Linked DNA regions of Homo sapiens. The protein of the gene in region 1 purifies or fractionates together with the protein of each later gene. This does not show direct contact. Each region holds a gene or a part of one and is shown on either strand. Other genes may lie near its edges.

The links.
Region 2: the proteins of LMAN2 (region 1) and PLXNB2 purify together in Homo sapiens (affinity purification with mass spectrometry; 3 studies listed by BioGRID and IntAct, with this or other methods). This does not show direct contact.
Region 3: the proteins of LMAN2 (region 1) and HEATR3 purify together in Homo sapiens (affinity purification with mass spectrometry; 3 studies listed by BioGRID and IntAct, with this or other methods). This does not show direct contact.

Annotation. Positions count from the first base shown.
Region 1 is NC_000005.10:177,341,643-177,348,749, reverse strand, and holds part of LMAN2 (vesicular integral-membrane protein VIP36 precursor), read left to right. Parts: intron 1-7,107. UniProt on the Homo sapiens protein: Plays a role as an intracellular lectin in the early secretory pathway. Interacts with N-acetyl-D-galactosamine and high-mannose type glycans and may also bind to O-linked glycans.
Region 2 is NC_000022.11:50,283,584-50,290,690, reverse strand, and holds part of PLXNB2 (plexin-B2 isoform 3 precursor), read left to right. Parts: intron 1-93; coding exon of another isoform or gene 94-106; coding exon 107-1,174; intron 1,175-1,548; coding exon 1,549-1,731; intron 1,732-1,819; coding exon 1,820-1,948; intron 1,949-2,653; coding exon 2,654-2,754; intron 2,755-2,897; coding exon 2,898-3,024; intron 3,025-3,426; coding exon 3,427-3,580; intron 3,581-4,403; coding exon 4,404-4,518; intron 4,519-4,592; coding exon 4,593-4,701; intron 4,702-4,789; coding exon 4,790-4,891; intron 4,892-5,777; coding exon of another isoform or gene 5,778-5,846; intron 5,847-6,025; coding exon 6,026-6,118; intron 6,119-6,477; coding exon 6,478-6,559; intron 6,560-6,700; coding exon 6,701-6,858; intron 6,859-6,940; coding exon 6,941-7,089; intron 7,090-7,107.
Region 3 is NC_000016.10:50,096,863-50,103,969, forward strand, and holds part of HEATR3 (HEAT repeat-containing protein 3), read left to right. Parts: intron 1-3,367; coding exon 3,368-3,511; intron 3,512-5,396; coding exon 5,397-5,573; intron 5,574-7,107. UniProt on the Homo sapiens protein: Plays a role in ribosome biogenesis and in nuclear import of the 60S ribosomal protein L5/large ribosomal subunit protein uL18 (RPL5). Required for proper erythrocyte maturation.

The DNA.
Region 1 (7,107 bases):
ACCACGCCCAGCTAGTTTTTGTGTTTTTAGTAGAGGTTTTTTTTTTTTTTTTTTTTTTTTTTGAGACAGAGTCATGCTCTATCACCCAGGCTGGAATGCAGTGGTGCGATCTCAGCTCACTGCAACCTCCACCTCACGAGTTCAAGCGATTCTTCTGCCTCAGCCTCCCCAGTAGCTGGGATTACAGGCGCGCACTGCCATGTCCAGCTAATTTTTTGTATTTTTAGTAGAGATGAGGTTTTGCCATGTTTGCGAGGCTGGTCTCCGACTCCTGGCCTCAAGTGATCTGCCCACCTCGGCCTCCCAAAGTGCTAGGATTACAGGTGTGAGCCACTGTGCCTGGCCAGTATGTCAGTTTTTTAATTGAACTTGTACTTTCATTTCCACACAGAATATTATCCTAATGCAATATATTTAATGCTTGAAAATGTTATTCATTAGCCTACCATATTCTTCTGCAAGTAAAATTAATATAATAATTTAAACTTTTCAATTTTGTTGAGACTGAAACTTTTAATATTTTGTTTGAGATTATTATAATTATCTGTACACACTTGATAAAAGTAAATGCATTACACAGTTTTTGAGTAATTATACAAAAGTAAACATTTTTTGAAACATGAGATCTCAGTAGGATGTCACCCCCCACCCCCATCTGGATGGATAATACTGTCAGAATAAGACAAGTTCAGTACCACTTCTACTTTTTGTTTTTATGTACATGAATTCTGAGAAACTGTGTTCTCTTAAATAGTAGTTGGAGATGGGGTTATTTTTAAAATTTTAAATTTCTATTATAGATGGGATCTTACTATGTTGCCCAGTCTTATCTTGAACTCTTGGACTCAAGCAATCTTCCCACCTCAGCCTCTGAGTATCTGGGACACAGGTGCTCACCACCACTGTGCCTGGCACAGCGGGAGTTTTGGTAGAGCAGCATCACTGAATATTTTGATCTTCTTTTGGTTTATAAACCCAACGTCATGCAGTGATCTTTTATCAAAATTTTTGATGATGTTTCGGCTGACTGTTGATTACATCTGCATTCCGTTTCGTTGCAAGCAGAGATGTGGAAACTGCTGAACTGTAAAATAGCCTCTTATTGCCAGGTGATTCTGATGTAGTTGGCCTGGTGTAGGACCAAGGCATTAAGCTTTCTGAGCTCCCCAGGTGGGTTTGCTGTGGGTTAAGAACTGTGGTCATATCGTGTTTGTCCCCAAAAGCAGCTTCTGAATCATTTCCAGCCTGTGCCTTGCCTGCTTAAGATCCTCCAGAGGCCTTCTATTGTCTGTATCATAGTATGTCTCTACTAATCTGCAGTTTTAATCTGGGGTCATGAAGACTTTCCAAGGCCTGCGTAGTCCTGGAGGAGTCTGTTTCCAGGTCCTCCACTGTCTCATGTGCTCATTCCTGAAACCAGCCTCCCCGTGAACATGCTGGGAATGGGTGTGTGGGTTTTCCTTTCCCACCTCCCTCACTCAGTTGCCCTTCTGCTCTGAGGTCAGCCTCCCAACAGCCTGGTCTTTCTTCAGGGTGTTGTCCCCAGGTGCAGAAAACTCCTGGGCACCAAAGAGACCATTTGAAATCTGGTTTCTGGGCTGACTTTTGTACATGTGAGATATTTTTTTTTAAAGTTTTCAAATATATGAGGGCTATTTTAGTTATCTTTTAAAATTGTTTATTATTGTTAGATAGCTGATGGAATTGCATCATGGTCAGATTTTTTGGACGCGTTCTGTTTGTGCTTATGAATGTGGATTCTCTACTTGTTGACTACAGTGTGCCACGTAGGTTCTTTAGGTCAAACTTGCTTTCTGAGCTTCCCAGGTGGGTCTGCTGTGCAGCCAGGGTTAAGATTGAGTTCGGATCTTCTCTAGCTTTCCTCATGTTTTTGTCTGCTTGCTTTTATAAGTTACTAAGAGAGCTTTGTTAAAAATTTCTGTGTATGGCTGGGCAAGGTGACACGTGCCTGTAAGTGTCAGCTACTGGGGAGGCTGAGGCAGGAGGATTGCTTGAGTCAAGGAGTTCAAAACCAGCCCAGGCAGCATAGTAAGACCCCATCTCAAAAAAAAAAAAAGTGTTAAAAAAATTTCTGTATATGGATTTGTCTGCATCTTTGTAGTTCTGTCAGTTTCTGTTTTATATGTTTTGAGGCCAAATTAGGTACATACAAAAACTTAGATTTATTATATCTGTAGGTAAATGGAATCTTTTATCATTAAGAAGAACCCCTTTTTACATTTTGTTATGGGTATAGCTATAGAAGCTTGCTTTTTTTAAAAAAAAAACAACAACCGGTAATCAATTTATTAAAATAGTCAACTTTAAATATCTGCAATGGTGACTTCCACCTCAACTCCTGGCTCAATACTGATGGAAGTAATCTGCTTAATCTCAGAAGGACTGTGGAGGTCAGTGAGCCACTTGTGGATTCTCATCTGGAAACGATCCCGTGTGTTAGAACCTTCACAAGGAGTTTTTCTTGTGGTGATTCTCGAAGCCTTGATAGGCGTTCCAGCTGGTCTTTTCACTTTGAGATTCTTTTCCTTTGCTCCTCTGATCAAGTCAGCACACACCTTTTCTGGGGATTCTATGTTGCAGCTCATTAAAGTGATTCAGATTCAGTGAATTGTCACCTCTGGCTCCGCAGGTTTTCTTCAGGTATCTTTAAAGCCGTGGGTGGGCCGGGTGCGGTGGCTCACGCCTGTAATCCCAGCACTTTGGGAGGCCGAGGCAGGCAGATCACCTGAGGTCGGGAGTTCGAGACCATCCTGGCCAACACGGTGAAACCCCGTCTCTATTAAAAATACAAAAATTAGCTGGGTGTGGTGGCGGGCGCTTGTAGTCCCAGTTACTCTGGAGGCTGAGGCAGGAGAATTGCTTGAACCTGGGAGGCAGAAGTAGCAGAGAGCTGAGATTATGCCACTGCACTCCAGCCTGGGCGACAGAGCGAGACTGTCTCAAAAAATAAATAAATAAATAAATAAATAAATAAATAAATAAATAAATAAATGCATGCCATGGCTGCTGCGAGCCTTCCTGACCAACTTGTTCCTCAGCCAGAGCAAACAGTGGTGAGGCAGGAGCAGGAGCGGGCAGACCACAGCTCTGCAGCGCCTGTGGCCCTGTCTTCCTGAAGGAGCAGAAGCTTGCTTTTGGTTAGTGTTTGCATGATACATTTTTCCTGTCCTTTTACTTTTTCCCATTTCTTTATGTTTTAGCGTTTTCTCTTATAAATGGTATATTACTAGGCTTCAGGGGTGTTGTTTTTATGTTGTAAATGCATATAACATAAAATTTACCACTTTAACCCTTTTTACCTTTAAATCCATTAATTTATGAAACTATTTTCTTCAGTAGGCTACACATTGACATTGAAAGAGTGGCTTTTTTTTTTTTTTTTTTTTTTTAGACAGGGTCTTAATCTGTCACCTAGGCTGGAATGCAATGGTGTAATCACGGCTCACTGCAGCCTCGGTCTCCTGGGTGTGATCCTCCCACCTCAGCCTCCTGAGTAGCTGGGACTACAGGCGCACACCACCATGCCTGGCTAATTTTTTTTTTTTTTTTTTGGTAGAAGTAGGGTTTCACCATGTTGACTAGGCTGGTCGTGAACTCTGGGCTCAAGCAGTCCACCCACCTTGCCCTCCCAGAGTGCTGGGATTACAGGCATGAGCCACTGCGCCCAGCCTGACAATGGCATTTAAAAGATGTCATGGCTATGTAAAAAAATGTTTCCACTGTTGTACGTACACATCTGCACATGCAAGAAAATTTCTCAAATCTTTCTTCCTTTTCTTTTCTCTTCTCTTCTTTCTCTTCTTTTCTTTTCTTTTCTTTTTTTGAGACAGGGTCTCACTCTGTTGCCCAGGCTGGAGTGCAGTGGCGCGATCTCGGCTCACCACAACCTCTGCCTCCCGGGTTCAAGTGATTTTCCTGCCTCAGCCTCCCTAGTAGCTGGGACTACAGGCGCCCGCCACCGCACCCGGCTAATTTTTGTATTTTTAGTAGGACGAGGTTTCACCATGTTGGCCAGGCTTGGTCTTGAGCTCCTGACCTCAGGTGATCTGCCTGCCTCGGCCTCCCAAAGTGCTGGGATTACAGGTGTGAGCCACTGCATCTGGTCAAATTTCTCAAATATTTCTATTGTGATAAAATGTATGTAACACAGGCTGGGCGCGGTGGCTCACGCCTATAATCCCAGCACTTTGGGAGACCGAGGTAGGTGGATCACGAGGTCAGGAGATCAAGACCATCCTGGCCAACATGGTGAAACCCCGTCTCTACTAAAAATACAACTAATTAGCTGGTCATGGTGGCGTGTTCCTGTAATCCCAGCTACTCAGGAGGCTGAGGCAGGAGAATTGAACCAGGGAGGCAGAGGTTGCAGTGAGCTGAGATCACGCCACTGCACTCCACCCTGGCGACAGAGCAAGACTCTGTCTCAAAAAAAAAAAAAAAAAAAAAAGTAACAAAGCGTACCATTTTAACCAGTTTTTAAAATTAAAAAAAAATTTTTTTTTTTTTAGAGATGGGGGGGGTCTCACTTTGTCACGGAGGCTGGAGTGCAGTGGTGCAATCCTAGCTCATTGCAGCCTCGAACTCCTGGAGTCCAGTGATCCTCCTGCTTAGTGTCCTGAGTAGCTGGGATTACAAGGCATGTGCTATTGTGCCTGGCTAATTTTTTTTTTTTTAATTTTTTGTAGAGCTGGGGTCTCACTATGCTGCCCCGGGCTGGTCTCGAACTCCTGGCCTCAAGCAATCCTCCTGCCTTGGCCTCCCAAAGTGCTGGGATTACAGGCGTGAGCTACTGCGCCTGGCCCATTTTAACCATTTTTAAGTGTACAGGTCAGTGGCATTAAGTGCATTCACATTGCTGTGTAGCCATCACCACCGTCTGTCTCCAGAACTCTTTGCTCATCCCAACTGAAACTCTCTACCCATTTAACAATCACTCCCATCCCCACAGTCCCTGGTAACCACCATTCTACCTCATCTCTGTAAATTTGACTATTCTAGGCATCTCACATAAATGATAAATGGAGGCATACAATATTTGTCTTCTTTGACTTATTTTACTGAGCATATGTTGAACGTTCCTCCATACTGTAGTATATGTCAGTACTGCATTCCTTTTTGTTGCTGAGTAATATTCGTGTGTGTGTGTGTGTGTGTGTGTGTGTGTCTAGACCACATTCCGTGTATTCATCTATTCGTAATGGACACTTGGGTTGTTTCCATCTGTTGCCATTGTGAATAGTGCTGCAGTGAACATTGGTATACAAGTATCTGTTTGAATCCTACTTTCAGTTCTTTTGGGTATATACCCAGGAAGTAGAATCTCTGGATCATACGGTCATTCTATTTTTACTTTTTTGAGGACTACCAAACGGTTTTCTGTAGCAACTGCACCATTTTATATTCCCACCAGCAATGCACAAGGATTCCAATTTCTCCACATCCTTGCCAACATTTGTTATTATTTATTTATTTATTGAGATGAAGTCTCGCCCTGTCGCCAGGCTGGAGTGCAGTGGCGCGATCTCGGCTCGCTGGAACCTCTGCCTCCCGGGTTCAAGTGATTTTCCTGCCTCAGCCTCCCGAATAGCTGGGACTACAGGTGCCTGCCACCATGCCCAGTTAATTTTTTTAATATTTTTAGTAGAGACAGGGTTTCACCGTGTTAGCCAGGACGGTCTCCATCTCTTGACCTCGTGATCTGCCCGCCTTGGCCTCCCAAAGTGCTGGGACTACAGGCATGAGCCACCGCGCCCGGCCTAGGGTTTTTTAATATATTCTAGATATTAATCCCTTATCAGATATGTGATTTGCAAATATTTTCTCCTATTCTGTGGGTTGTCTTTTCACCCTCTTGATCATGCTCTTTGATGTACAAAAATTTTAGTTTTAGTGAAGTACAATTTATCTTTTTTTTTTTTTTGTCTGTGCTTTTGGTGCTATATCCAAGAAATCTTTACTAAATCCAGTGTCATGAACATTTTTTCCCTAGATTTTCTTCTAAGAGTTTTAAAGGGTTTTTTTGTTGGTTTGTTTATTGTTTTTTGAGGCAGGGTCTCATTTTATTGCCTAGGCCGGAGTGCAGTGGCGTGAACACGGCTCACTGCAGCCTTGACCTCTCCAGCTCAAGTGATCCTCCTGCCTCAGCCCCACAAGTAGCTGGGACTACAGGCATGCGCAGTCAGGCCCAGCTAATTTTTGTATTTTTTTGTAGAGACAGGTTTTCACCGTGTTGCCTGGGCTAGTCTTGAACTTCTGCGCTCTGGTGATCCACCTGCCTCAGCCTCCCAAAGTGTTTCAGATTACAGGTGTGAGCCACTGCAACCGGCCAGGTTTGAGCTCTTAAGTTTAGATCTCTGATCTTTATATACTTATTATTATTTTTTTTTATAGAGATGGAGTCTTGCTGTGTTGCCCAGGCTGGTCTTGAACTCCTTGGCTCAAGCAAACCTCCCATGATGGCCTCCCAAGGTGCTGGGACTACAGGTATGAGCTACTGCACCTGGCCTCTTTACTTTTCAAATTAAACTTTTTATTTTGACATAATTATAAATTCACATGCCGTTGCAGGAAATAATACAGAGATCCTAGGTGCCCTTGGGTTTTGTTTTTTTATTTAGCATTTAGTCCATTTACATTTAATGAAATATGATACATTTGGGTTTAATCTGCTATCTTACTCTATATATTCAAATTGCCTATTCTCTGTTCATTTTTCTCTCTAGTCTTCTTTTAGGTTAATTTTTATTATCCTATTTTTCCTCTTCTATTAGCTTGAAAGTTATATGCTCTTTTCTCAGTTTTAAGTGGTCACCCTAGAATTTAAAGCAGGCATTCATGTTGTACCAAAGACTAATGATAATGTGTACTTTACCTTCTTCCTGGACAGTGCAAGGATCCTAACACACTTTAACTCCATTTATTGTTGTCATTTGTTTTAATTATTTCTGTTTTAAATCACACAACCCATTGTTTTGTGCAGTCAGATATTTAGATTTTCACCCTTATAGTCACTGTATTTGTTGTTCTTCGTTCCTTCTGGAATCTGACTTTACATCTGGATGGGGATCATTTTCTTTCTCCCTGAAG
Region 2 (7,107 bases), on another chromosome or scaffold:
CCCATGTTCTGACGTTTGGGGCAGGGACTGGAGAGGGATTTGATCGGGGGTCCTCTGGGTCGGGGCTCCCCTGACCCTTCTCTCTTCCCACAGGGTGCGGGGGGCAATGGCACTGCAGCTCTGGGCCCTGACCCTGCTGGGCCTGCTGGGCGCAGGTGCCAGCCTGAGGCCCCGCAAGCTGGACTTCTTCCGCAGCGAGAAAGAGCTGAACCACCTGGCTGTGGATGAGGCCTCAGGCGTGGTGTACCTGGGGGCGGTGAATGCCCTCTACCAGCTGGATGCGAAGCTGCAGCTGGAGCAGCAGGTGGCCACGGGCCCGGCCCTGGACAACAAGAAGTGCACGCCGCCCATCGAGGCCAGCCAGTGCCATGAGGCTGAGATGACTGACAATGTCAACCAGCTGCTGCTGCTCGACCCTCCCAGGAAGCGCCTGGTGGAGTGCGGCAGCCTCTTCAAGGGCATCTGCGCTCTGCGCGCCCTGAGCAACATCTCCCTCCGCCTGTTCTACGAGGACGGCAGCGGGGAGAAGTCTTTCGTGGCCAGCAATGATGAGGGCGTGGCCACAGTGGGGCTGGTGAGCTCCACGGGTCCTGGTGGTGACCGCGTGCTGTTTGTGGGCAAAGGCAATGGGCCACACGACAACGGCATCATCGTGAGCACTCGGCTGTTGGACCGGACTGACAGCAGGGAGGCCTTTGAAGCCTACACGGACCACGCCACCTACAAGGCCGGCTACCTGTCCACCAACACACAGCAGTTCGTGGCGGCCTTCGAGGACGGCCCCTACGTCTTCTTTGTCTTCAACCAGCAGGACAAGCACCCGGCCCGGAACCGCACGCTGCTGGCACGCATGTGCAGAGAAGACCCCAACTACTACTCCTACCTGGAGATGGACCTGCAGTGCCGGGACCCCGACATCCACGCCGCTGCCTTTGGCACCTGCCTGGCCGCCTCCGTGGCTGCGCCTGGCTCTGGCAGGGTGCTATATGCTGTCTTCAGCAGAGACAGCCGGAGCAGTGGGGGGCCCGGTGCGGGCCTCTGCCTGTTCCCGCTGGACAAGGTGCACGCCAAGATGGAGGCCAACCGCAACGCCTGTTACACAGGCACCCGGGAGGCCCGTGACATCTTCTACAAGCCCTTCCACGGCGATATCCAGTGCGGCGGCCACGCGCCGGTATGGGCCTCAGTGTGTTCTCGCAGGGCCCGGACTGCAGGCGTCCGTTCGTGGGTTTGCGTGTCCCAGCCTGCTGGGGAGGGTGCACGTGAGCAGTGTGGCCGTGGCTCTCGCCAGCCTGGGCGCTTGCGTGGGTGGGTGCCGCATCTCTCAATGCCATTCACGCTGGCGCCAGTCCCAGGCCTGTGTCGGGCACTGGGGAACACAACAGTGAGCACGGTGGGGCTCCCTGCCATGTGGGTTCTGTTCTCGGGGACGTGTGTAGGACGTGTGCCGGAGGGAAGGGAAGGGCCTGTCCCGAGTCTTGGAGCGCGAGTGGAGAGGGCCCTTCAGGACAGGGGGTCTGCCTGCCATTGACACGCTGTGGTCCGCAGGGCTCCAGCAAGAGCTTCCCATGTGGCTCGGAGCACCTGCCCTACCCGCTGGGCAGCCGCGACGGGCTCAGAGGCACAGCCGTGCTGCAGCGTGGAGGCCTGAACCTCACGGCCGTGACGGTCGCCGCCGAGAACAACCACACTGTTGCTTTTCTGGGCACCTCTGATGGCCGGATCCTCAAGGTTTGGCCCAGGCTGGGGCGGGGAGGCTCTGGAGGGCCCGTCTGTGCACAAGGCCCGTACCCTCACCGGCCTGCCCTCGCGCACACAGGTGTACCTCACCCCAGATGGCACCTCCTCAGAGTACGACTCTATCCTTGTGGAGATAAACAAGAGAGTCAAGCGCGACCTGGTACTGTCTGGAGACCTGGGCAGCCTGTACGCCATGACCCAGGACAAGGTGAGCCAGACGCAGCCCCGGAGAGCACTCTAGGCCAAGTGTGCCCGGTCATTGCATCCCAGGCCCTTAGGACAGGCCTGGGGGCCAGAGGAGGATGGGGTGCTGCAGAGCTGGGCCCTTCTCCTTGGTCTGGATGAGGGGTGGCTGGGTGGGTCCCGGGCAGTGCCTCCATCCTGTGTCTCTCTAGCACTGCCCCGTCTCTGCCGCTCCTTCTGTTTGTCCTTTGTGGTCTCAACCATGTCTCTCCCTCTGGCCCCGCCTCTGCCCTGTCCTGATGGAAGGGACCTGGGTTGGTGTCTGAGGCGTGTTGCTGAGGGTGGATGGGAAGACGGGGTCCCTGCACAGCCCATGTGAGCTCAGTCAGTGGAGAACATGGGCCTGGGCCCCAAGCTTGTGGGGGGTTAGTGCCAGAGACCCTCAGGCCAGCCCTAGGAGCACCCCTCGGAGGGAGCCAGTGTAGAGGACAGGAGCTGCCCCGGGAGACACCATAGCCAAGACCTCCAGGCTTCCCTGGGCTCCCATCGGGATCCTGGGCCAGGCATGGCCACCCAGAGCCAGAACTGTTTAATATCAAGCCTGAGGTGTCTGAGGCTCCCGAGGCCCCGGGACAGAGCTGGGTCAAGCTGGCGGTCTGGGGACATCTGGGGTCTGCGGAAGGCCCGTGCGGCCTCTGCTGTGGTCCCACTCACGGCCCCGCTGCCCTAGGTGTTCCGGCTGCCGGTGCAGGAGTGCCTGAGCTACCCGACCTGCACCCAGTGCCGCGACTCCCAGGACCCCTACTGCGGCTGGTGCGTCGTCGAGGGACGGTGAGTGCCTGGGGTGGCTCGGGGACACGGCCTGCCTCTGGGATCCCGGAAGGTCGTGGCCTGGGTCGGGGGGCACATCGCACTGTCCTGTCCCGGGAGAACAAGACTCCACCCTGGGCTGAGGCCGCCCCCTGCGCCTGCAGATGCACCCGGAAGGCCGAGTGTCCGCGGGCCGAGGAGGCCAGCCACTGGCTGTGGAGCCGAAGCAAGTCCTGCGTGGCCGTCACCAGCGCCCAGCCACAGAACATGAGCCGGCGGGCCCAGGGGGAGGTGCGTGGTGGGTCTGGGGTGGGGGTCCTGGGCCCCAGGCCGGGCCAGGTGGGGGCTCCCCCATGCTGGGAGCTGTTGGGACAGGCAGGGGAGGGCTCCACATCTCCCCCGCCTGGGCTCTGGGCACCGAGCCTTAGGGATGGAGCCCGCCCTCCATTGGTCCCCTGGACCCCTATGACCTGGGCGGGCAGGGGTGGGGCTTGTCCATATCCAGGGTGGACTCAGGCCCTGTCCCAGGAGTTGCTGGGGTGACCACAGAGAGGCCTGTATTGGAAGACGTGGAGTCGGGTTCTGGAGGCTCCACTGGGACGTGCGCCCACACACGCAGGGAGGTCGGGTCACCGGCAGGTGGGCTGACAGGACTCGGGGTTCCCAGTGTGAGCGGCACGGCCCCTCCCTCAGGTGCAGCTGACCGTCAGCCCCCTCCCTGCCCTGAGCGAGGAGGACGAGTTGCTGTGCCTTTTTGGGGAGTCGCCGCCACACCCCGCCCGCGTGGAGGGCGAGGCCGTCATCTGCAACTCCCCAAGCAGCATCCCCGTCACACCGCCAGGCCAGGGTGAGGCCCCTTCCCGAGCCCCCGGGTGGCCCTTCTCGGTCGCACGGGGCCCTGTGCACACGGGCTCTCGCCTCTGCTGGCCCCTGGGTGCAGGCTCTGCACAGGCACACTCCGCGGCTGCTCCGGGGGCCCAGCCTGAATGAAGCCTGTGGTGGGGTTGCTGTGCCTGTTGGGGAGGTTCTGGCTTCTTGGGCTGTCCGCAGCCACGCCCCCCAGGCCTGTAGCAAAGGTGACTTGTCTTCAGCCTGCTCCCTCATCACGTCCGGAGCGGCATGTGGGTGCCAGGCGCCAGGCCCCGTCGTCTCGGCAGACGCCCCTCACCCCTTCCTGCCATGTCCAGCTTCAGAGAGCAGGGCCGTTCCCAGAGGCTGCAGGGCCTCGCATGTGGGCCAGGGCAGGCGTCGCGCCCATGTCCCCTGAGTTTTGGGGGCAGTGGGGCCACGCAGTGACGTGGGCAGGGACCTGGCAGGTCCCACTCAGACTCCAAGGAGCCGCTGCCCTCAGTGCCTGCGGGAACAGAGGGTATGAAAGCAACCTGGACCCGGGGGAGAAAGGCAAGCCCGGTGCTGCGCCCGACACCCGAACCAAGATCTGATAGCAGGTGGCAGGTCCAGCCCAGCGTGAACGGGCGTCCTGGCAGCCCCACCCGAGATCTGATAGCAGGTGGCAGGCCCCGCCCAACATGAATGCGGGGCGTCCTGGCAGGGCCCCCTGAAGACCAGGGGTCTCCACCTTGGCCCCAGGAGTCAGCCCCAGGGGAGGCCCAGCCTGGCCCTCGGCCCTGCGGCCGCCACCTTGACACCTCCCCCTCTGCTGTCTGCAGACCACGTGGCCGTGACCATCCAGCTCCTCCTTAGACGAGGCAACATCTTCCTCACGTCCTACCAGTACCCCTTCTACGACTGCCGCCAGGCCATGAGCCTGGAGGAGAACCTGCCGTGAGTGTCTTGTGCCCATCGACCCCACCCTGCCCGTCCACCCCAGCCCTGCTCACGATCCCCTCTGGATGCAGGTGCATCTCCTGCGTGAGCAACCGCTGGACCTGCCAGTGGGACCTGCGCTACCACGAGTGCCGGGAGGCTTCGCCCAACCCTGAGGACGGCATCGTCCGTGCCCACATGGTGAGGGGCCTCGGGGCCTCAGGGGACTGTTCAGGGCATGGCTGCTCCGCTGTGCCCAGGCAGCACCTGACCAGCCTTACTCTCCCAGGAGGACAGCTGTCCCCAGTTCCTGGGACCCAGCCCCCTGGTGATCCCCATGAACCACGAGACAGATGTGAACTTCCAGGGCAAGAACCTGGACACCGTGAAGGTGCGGAGGGAGGGGTGCCGGCTGGTGACAGGCAGGCTCAGGTGCGGAGGGAGGGGTGCCGGCCGGTGACAGGCAGGCTCAGGTACGGAGGGAGGGGTGCCGGCCGGTGACAGGCAGGCTCAGGTGCGGAGGGAGGGGTGCCGGCTGTGACAGGCAGGCTCAGGTGCGGAGGGAGGGGTGCCGGCCGGTGACAGGCAGGCTCAGGTGCGGAGGGAGGGGTGCCGGCTGTGACAGGCAGGCTCAGGTGCGGAGGGAGGGGTGCCGGCCGGTGACAGGCAGGCTCAGGTGCGGAGGGAGGGGTGCCGGCCGGTGACAGGCAGGCTCAGGTACGGAGGGAGGGGGTGCCGGTTGGTGACAGGCAGGCTCAGGTGCGGAGGGAGGGGGTGCCGGCCGGTGACAGGCAGGCTCAGGTGCGGAGGGAGGGGTGCCGGCCGGTGACAGGCAGGCTCAGGTGCGGAGGGAGGGGTGCCGGCCGGTGACAGGCAGGCTCAGGTGCGGAGGGAGGGGGTGCCGGTTGGTGACAGGCAGGCTCAGGTGCGGAGGGAGGGGTGCCGGCCGGTGACAGGCAGGCTCAGGTGCGGAGGGAGGGGGTGCCGGTTGGTGACAGGCAGGCTAAGGTACGGAGGGAGGGGTGCCGGCCAGTGCTGATGGGTGTGTGGGAAGCCTGAGCTCCACCCGTGCCCCCCGACTCGGGGCCCCCACATGAGGTAGAGGGCACAGGATTTATCGGGGACAGAGGCCAGGAGGCAGCACTCGGGGGCCTTTGGATGGGCCTGAAGAGAGGCAGTGGAGGAGGCAGGCGTGTGGAGATTGAGGGGCCAGTGCCACCTCCTGAGGAGGGAGCTGTGGGGGCCACGATGTCAGGTGGGCCGGGCGATGTTCTCAGGTGTGGATGAGTGGTGGAGGTGGCCGTGGGAAACCCACAGAGGACGTTCAGAGGCTTCTGCAGACACAGGTGTTTGGGCTCAGGAGTGGCCGAGGGGTCAGCTGGCATGGTAATCTGAGGGGCGGGCATGTGTGGGGTGAGGAGAGGGCTCCCACACTGTAGGCACAGAGGAGGGGCTGCAGGGGTTCTGGGAGGAGGGCCAGGGTGCCACAGCCGCCTGTCCAGGGTCCTGACGGCATGGTCTGCAGGGTTCCTCCCTGCACGTGGGCAGTGACTTGCTCAAGTTCATGGAGCCGGTGACCATGCAGGAATCTGGGACCTTCGCCTTTCGGACCCCAAAGGTACGGCTCCAGGGCAGGCCGGCTCGGCTGCTGGACCCCAGGGCCCCGGGTGGGGTGGGGGGTCACCTTCAGGACTGTGAGGGGAGGGGCAGCAGGGAGACCCCAGGGACCAGAGCCCAGCCAGGGGCTCGCCATGCCCTGTGCTGCTGGGGAAGCCCCCTCTGCCCTCTGCCTCCCTGGGGACAGAGTGGCACAGAGCAGCGTCCATGGGGTTCCCGAACTTCCGACACCTGAAGGCCTCCCCTGCTGCCCTTGGCTGGGAAGGGACCCGGTGGCCACAGGGAGGCTGCCCTTGTGACCCCCGCCCCACGCCCCTCTGTGGGGGCAGGAAGTGCAGTGTGCCCCTGCGTGTCCCCCAGCTGTCCCACGATGCCAACGAGACGCTGCCCCTGCACCTCTACGTCAAGTCTTACGGCAAGAATATCGACAGCAAGCTCCATGGTGGGGGCCACGGGCGCAGTGGGGGGCGGGCAGGGGACGGGTGGGCACAAGGCGGTGGGTGGGGGGACAGGTGGGCGCAGTGGGGAGCAGGTCGGGGGCGGGCAGGCACGGGGTGACCACTGACGGCAGCTCTCCCCGCAGTGACCCTCTACAACTGCTCCTTTGGCCGCAGCGACTGCAGCCTGTGCCGGGCCGCTAACCCCGACTACAGGTGTGCGTGGTGCGGGGGCCAGAGCAGGTGCGTGTATGAGGCCCTGTGCAACACCACCTCCGAGTGCCCGCCGCCCGTCATCACCAGGGTGAGCCCCTCGAAGCCTGGCCTACACCTTCCCTCGTCCCTGGCATGAGCCCCTCCCTGCTCACCCGGCTCTGTGGTTTCAGATCCAGCCTGAGACGGGCCCCCTGGGTGGGGGCATCCGCATCACCATCCTGGGGTCCAATTTGGGCGTCCAAGCAGGGGACATCCAGAGGATCTCTGTGGCCGGCCGGAACTGCTCCTTTCAGCCGGAACGTTACTCCGTGTCCACCCGGTGAGTGGACGGCCCTGG
Region 3 (7,107 bases), on another chromosome or scaffold:
TAGTCTATAGCATTTCCCTCACTCCCCTCCTTTCCCCATACACTTACCCATTGAAGAAACTCTCATTTTGTTCCGTAGCATTTTCTGCACTGGCAGATTTGGCCAACTCATCATGATGGCATCGTTCAGCATTCCTCTGTCCCCCATGTTTCCTGTGAGCCGGGAGCTAGGTCTAGAGCCTTAATTAGATCCAGGTCCAGATTATTTATTTATTTATTTTTTGTATTTATAATAAATAATCTAGACAGGTCCAGATTTTTTGGCAAGAATAATTTATAGTGCTTTATATATTTCCTATATTTATATCACAAATCATATGATATTATAAAATAGTGATGCTGAGATTAATTAGTGGGTTCACATAATGGTTTTATAACCAGTGATTGTGGTTGCCTGGCTCCATTATGTCATTAGTGGGTTGCAGAATAGAGATACCCTAATTTTGTCTTTTCTTTTTTTTTTTTTTACATTTATTAGCTATGATTTTTTTTTTTTTCAGAATAGCTATCCTAGCAATCTCTATAAGTGACCAGTGATTTTTTTTTTTTTAGTATCATTTTGAACTCAGGGTTTTTTATATATTTGTATTTCATTCCATTATAGTCATGCTTTTTGCTGCCAAATTCATCCCATCTTTGGATAGTAGGAGTCCCTTCAAATTGGCTCCTGTGCCTCTTTTACAAGAATTTTAGGTTTTTGATCACTTTTGCTTCCAGGCATAGGATGTCCCAGGTTCAATTTGTAATTTTCTTGCTTAAAACCTGGAATCTGGCCAGGCACAGTGGCTCATGCCTGTAATCCCAACACTTTAGGAGGCTGAGGTGGGCGGATCACTTGAGGTCAGGAGTTTGAGACCAGCCTGACCCACATGGCGAAACTCCGTCTCTACTGAAAATTCAAAAATTAGCTGGGTGTGGTGGCACGCGCCTGTAATCCCAGCTACTTGGGAGGCTGAGGCAGGAGAATCGCTTGAAGCCAGGAGGTGGAGGTTGCAGTGAGCCAAGATTGCACTGCACTCCAGCCTGGGTGACAAGAGTGTGACAAGAGTGAAACTCCGTCTCAAAAAAAAAAAAAAAAAACCCTGGAATTAGTTACTTCTCCAAGAAGCTCTGATTTCTTTAGTGGGGAAAGTGAATTGTGGAGTGCTTATTGCTATCATGTTGCCATTGTTTCTAGGTCTTTTTAGTGGAAATAGCTAGGAAATAGGCATTTTTTTAGGAGACAAAAATAGTAAGTTTATCCTGATAATTTCCAGTTTAAATAAAAAATGGTACAATATTTTTACTTAATTTTCGATTTTGTATTTCTATCTTTTTGTATCCCCCAAAAAGATACATTTGTACCCAAAAAGGTACATTGTACCCAAAAAGATACATTAGTGACATTAAAATTCTTATTTGCAGCTGGTCTGATGGTAGTGGGTTATCAGGACTTATTAACATTAGTGTCACTGAAGTTGGTATACAACCCCCCACGCTAAGTTTGACTGGCTTTAAAAATAATAATAAATAGGTCGGGCACGGTGGCTCACGCCTGTAATCCCAGCAGTTTTGGAGGCCGAGGTGGGCGGATCACAAGGTCAGGAGATCAAGACCATCCTGGCTAACACAGTGAAACCCCGTCTCTATTAAAAAATACAAAAAATTAGCCGGGTGTGGTGGCGGGTGCCTGTAGTTCTGGCTACTCAGGAGACTGAGGCAGAAGAATGGTGTGAACCCAGGAGGCGGAGCTTGCAGTGAGCCAAGATCGGGCCACTGTAATCCAGCCTGGGCGACAGAGCGATACTCCGTTTCAAAAATAATAATAATAATAAATAATTTAAAAATTAAAATTAGAGAAAAGAAAGAAAAATATTTTTCAAAAATTTTATTATTTGCTTTCTCCTACAGAATGTACTTTGTAGTAGTGACATTAAAAGACATTAAAATTATTTGCTATACAGTGATATTAAAATTGTTTGCTGTAGTAACATTAAAATTGTAGTGACATTAAAACTATTATTTGCTTTATCCTACGGAATGTACTTAATAGTATCAAAATAACAATGCTCTTGTTATTGCCAATAACACTATTTCTTTTTGCTTCTTTATATAATTTTTTTCTTAATGCTTTTAAAATTTTTTTATACTTTATTTTTATTTTTTAGTTTTTTAATAGAGATGAGGTCTTGCTATGTTGCCCAGCCTGGTCTTAAACTCCTGCTCTCGAGTGATCCTCTTGCCTCAGCTTTCCAAAGCTAAGAATTTTTTTGAAGAGCATAATTTGACCCTCAGTTTCTAAGAAGTAGGAATGGTAATGGGATGCATAGCCTGCCATGTGGCTGTTGGATGGACCAGAAAACCTTATACTCTAGGGCCTATAGGAATATCAAGTATTTTTATTGATTTCCCCTGGTATGTAAGCAGCAGCTTATGGGATCAGTGTGATGGTTAAGGAAAATTACTCAAAGCCCATGTTCAGGGCCAGGTGCAGTGGCTCATACTAATAATCCTAACACTTTGGGAGCCTGAGGCGGGAGGATTGCTTGAGCCCAAGAGTTCAAGAACAGCCTGGGCAACTTTGTGAGACTTCATGTCTACAAAAAATAAAAATACATTAGTCTAGTGTAGGGGCTCACACGAGTGATAAGTAGTGAAGCTAGGATTTGAACCCAGGGTTCAATCTCCAGATTCCAAGCCTTTGTGTCTGGCTCCAGATTCCAAGCCTTTCATCACTACACTGTGCTGCTGCTTATAGGAGATAGTCTCACTCTGTTGCCCAGGCTAGAGTTCAGTGGCACAATCTCAGCTCACTGCAACCTCTGTCTCCCAGGTTCAAGCGTTTCTTGTGCCTCAGCCTCCTGAGTAGCTGAGATTGCAGGCGTGAGCCACCGCGCCCAGCCTTAAACTGAAAATTATCCACTACATGGTAGAAGCACCATATAATGTAATGGTTTCTACAGTCTTTAATTATGATAATACAGATATCTCAAAGTAAGTTCTTACCTTGTATAGACTCAGCCAATTTTTTTAAAACCACACAATCCTATTTATACTTTCAAAGCCTTTTTCTTACCATTAATATTAAAAAGGAATTGGACTCTCTTTAGTGTGTGTACATCTGGAATGAAAGTCTTCATCAAATTAAATGGAGCCCCTTTGATATTAGATAACAGTGCCGACATGAGCAGGGTTCACCTTAGTTCAGAATTACCAGCTCTGTCTGGGAGAACTGGAATACATATTAATAGTAACTTACCTGCCAGGAGTTTATGTCACTCTTAAAATCCTGTAGCCTATAGAGGAGATTCCTGTCAGTCCGGTTTTCACATGCTGATAGAATTAATTGAGTTTAACATTATAAATACTGTCCTCTTCTCTTTTAACAGTGCATGACTCCTGATCAGCTGATGACATTATGCAAAGCAGGCATTCATAGTAGTAATGTCGGGGTTAGAGTGAATGTCGTTAGCATTTTAGGAATCACTGGCAGCGTCCTTGCCAAAGAAGATGGTACACTTGAAACTCTTAAGGTAAAACAATTTGCTTCTGACCTAACATGTTAAATAATTAGAAATGGGAGAAGAACTGTTGGTGTAGGATTTCTTAAAACTTGTGTGGACTTGAAGAGAAGAAGTCATATCAAGTTGCTTTATTGAGTCATATTATTAGAATATACCCTTTGGCTTGATCTAACTATGTGTATTAATTAGGTAAGTATTTGAAAAGTTGAGCCACATTTTACAATTTAACGTTATTCCAGAGGTACTTTTTTAAAAAAATAAATCTGTCTTTAGTGAAAGGGCAAATTCAGAATTTTTAAAGATGCCTTCTGCCTTTGCTGTTGCATCCAATGTATGCATGTTACATTCTCCTGCTGATGAATGAACAATCCACACCATTTTCCTTGCACACCAGGCAACATGCATTCTGAAAAATACAACACAGTTAATTAATTCTAATACCACTCCATAAATTTTAAGCAGCAACCCTGGTAGTGCCAATATACTAGCAATTCCCTCAGCATATTTGCTCTTACCACTTAGCACAGTTGCTCACAAACTGCACTGTTAGGAGTACAGCGTCACTAGTAATTAAAAGGACAGTCATAGTAACATTACACTTTGGTGTGCTAATAATTGCTGAAGTGTGAGACTAGTGGATAATAAACTCATTATTATAAAGTACCTCTTAACCTGCTAAGAACTTTACAATGATGACTGATGTTTTTAAGAATCTATTTTTGAAAAATGATACTTGCAAAGCTTTTTTTTTTTTCTTTTTTTTTCTGAGATGGAGTCTCAGTCACCCAGGCTGGAGTACAGTAGTGCAGTAGTGTGATCTCGGCTCACTGCAACCTCCGCCTCTGGGTTCAAGCAATTCTTCTGCCTCAGCCTCCCGAGTAGCTGGGATTACAGGTGCCCACTACCACACCTGGCTAATTTTTGTATTTTTAATAGAGATGGGGTTTCGCCATGTTGGCCAAGCTGGTCTTGAACTCCTGGGCTCAAGCGATCTACCTACTTCAGCATCCCAGAGTGCTGGGATTACAGGCATGAGCCACTGCACCCGGCAACAGTTATTTCTTAGTGTGTCTAATTCCTGGTCCATATTCATAATTTTACAGTTGCCTCAAAATTATCTGTTTACAGAGAGCTTGTTTACACTGCTGAAGTCCACATGTTATGTTTCCTGTGGGGTCTTCTCTTTCTCTCTTAATCTTGAACAGTTCCTCCCCGGCACCACGTGGTTATTCTCACCTCCTGGATCAGTTGTCCAATATAGTGTCCAAAACCTTCTGGATTTGTCTGATTGCTACCTTGTGGTGGTAAATTTGTTTTTTTATCCTTGTATTTCCTACAAACTGACAGTTAGATCTACAGACTAGATTCGATTCAGATCAGTCCTATTTTACGTTTTTTAGAGATGAGGTCTTGCTCCATTGCCGAGGCTGGTCTTGAACTCCTGGGCTCGAGCGACCCTCCCGCCTTAGCCTCACAAAGTTCTGAACTTACAGGTGTGAGCCACTTGCAACTGGCCTAAAGTGTTTTTCTTATGCTTTTAAAAGCAGATTTTTTGTTGTTGTCGTTGTTGTTACAGATAATATTTCTATGCATCTTGACATCATGGAGAAATCCTTTTTGAGAGAGGTAGAGGGGAAAATTTAGTGATTTCCAAAATCATACATCATTTATGGATTTTAATTCACTTTATTTATGAATATAAACTATAATATGTTTAATTTATCTTGCTTATACTTGGTATGTTTATAAGTATTTAAGTCTAATCTCTTGAAGTTTTAATTTTTCCCTGGCATTTGTATATAAAATAGTATGCATGAGTTATTGCCACATTCAAAGTTGGTACTTGTTTTGGAGACTGGTGTTAGTCATACTAAATGTGTTTTGTTGTTTCCAGAACATTGGGTGCTTTCTGCTTGAAGTTACCACCAAAGATCCTTCCCTTGTGGTAGCAGGAGAAGCTTTGGATGCCCTCTTTGATGTTTTTGCAGATGGTAAAGAAGCCGAAAGAGCCTCGATTCAAATTAAATTATTATCTGCTCTGAAAGAATTCCAGCCGGTCTTTAAAATGAAGGTTTGTAGCCATTTAACTTATAAATACATAAGTCTGAACATTCTGTGGGGACAAGGGTGTGTGTAGTTACCGCTGTGCAACTCAGAAGCATGTGCATGACGAATCCCCATATGTAGCACAGCATCCCCAGTACTTTGTAAAATGTTCGTTGACTGAGTCATAGCTCAACAGTGTGACTACTGAATCATTGAAACTGAAGCTAAAATGGTATCTGACAAGTTCTTCTTTTTTTAAGTTTAGTAATTTTGACAATGCTTCATATATGTCAGTATTATACTCTGTATTTTGCAAAGCACTTTCATACACATTTTGCATTTATTTAATTTTACTTTTTTTTGTTTTTTTGAGACAGAATCTCACTCTGTCGCCCATGCTGGAGTGCAGTGGTGCGATCTTGGCTCACTGCGACCTCCCCTTCCCCAGTTCAAGTGATTCTTGTGCCTCAGCCTCCCAAGTAGCTGGGATTACAGGTGTCCACCACATCACCCAAATAATTTTTGTATTTTTAGTAGAAACGGGGATTCGCCTTGTCATCCAGGCTGGTCTCGAACTCCCAACCTCAGGTGATCTGCCCACCTTGGCCTCCCAAAGTGCTGGGATTACAGGTGTGAGCCACTGTGCCCAGCCATATTGTTCTTAAAGGTTACAGTCCTTTAAATTTCTGGATAAAGAGCTTGCAAGATAAGAAAAAAATATCCCCTATTTCCCTGCAGCTTCAAGGAAAGCAGATATATTAATAGTTAGAGTCATCAAACTCTGCAGAAGCAGGTGCTTAAAAAAGGTTAAACAGTGAACTGGGAAAATAACCCCTGACTTCTGAAAGGTCTTTGTTCTGATTGATTTTCCTACTCAGTATGTATTGCTGTGGTAATAACATTTGTTTTTCTTTTATCAAAGGTATAAAGCTCTAATGAGATTTCTTCCTAGCCAGAGGCTAGCCTGTAGTTATTTATGTGAAACTCTTTTTTTTGCTAAATGAAGCCACAATTTGTGTTAAAGGCTATTCAGTGTATATTTAGCTGCAAAATGCATTTATGTACAATCAAGAACTTCTCTTGAGCAGTGTTTCTCAAAAGTGCCCTCCTTGTATCAGCAGCATCAGCCCTTGCCTGATAACTTATTCAAAATGCAGGTCCTCGGCCCCAACTCCTGACCTACTGAGTCATAGACTCTGTGGATGGGCCCACCAGTCTATTTTTCAACAAGCCTTCCAGATGATACCGTTGCACACTAAAACCTGAGAGCCACTGCTCTAGACTAGAGGTGAGATCAAACTCAGATTCCATACAATTGATATAAAAAACCACAGGCCAGGCGCAGTGGCTCACACCTGTAATCCCAGCACTTTGGGAGCCCCAGGTGGGAGGATCACTCGAGTCCAGGATTTCAAGACCAGCCTGGGAAACATAGCAAGAACTTGTCTCTACAAAAAAATTTTTTTAAGTTAGCCATTAAGTGGTGGCTCATGCCTGTCATCCCAGCTACTCAGGAAGCTGAGCAGGAGGATCGTGTGAGTGCAGGAGTTGGAGGCTAC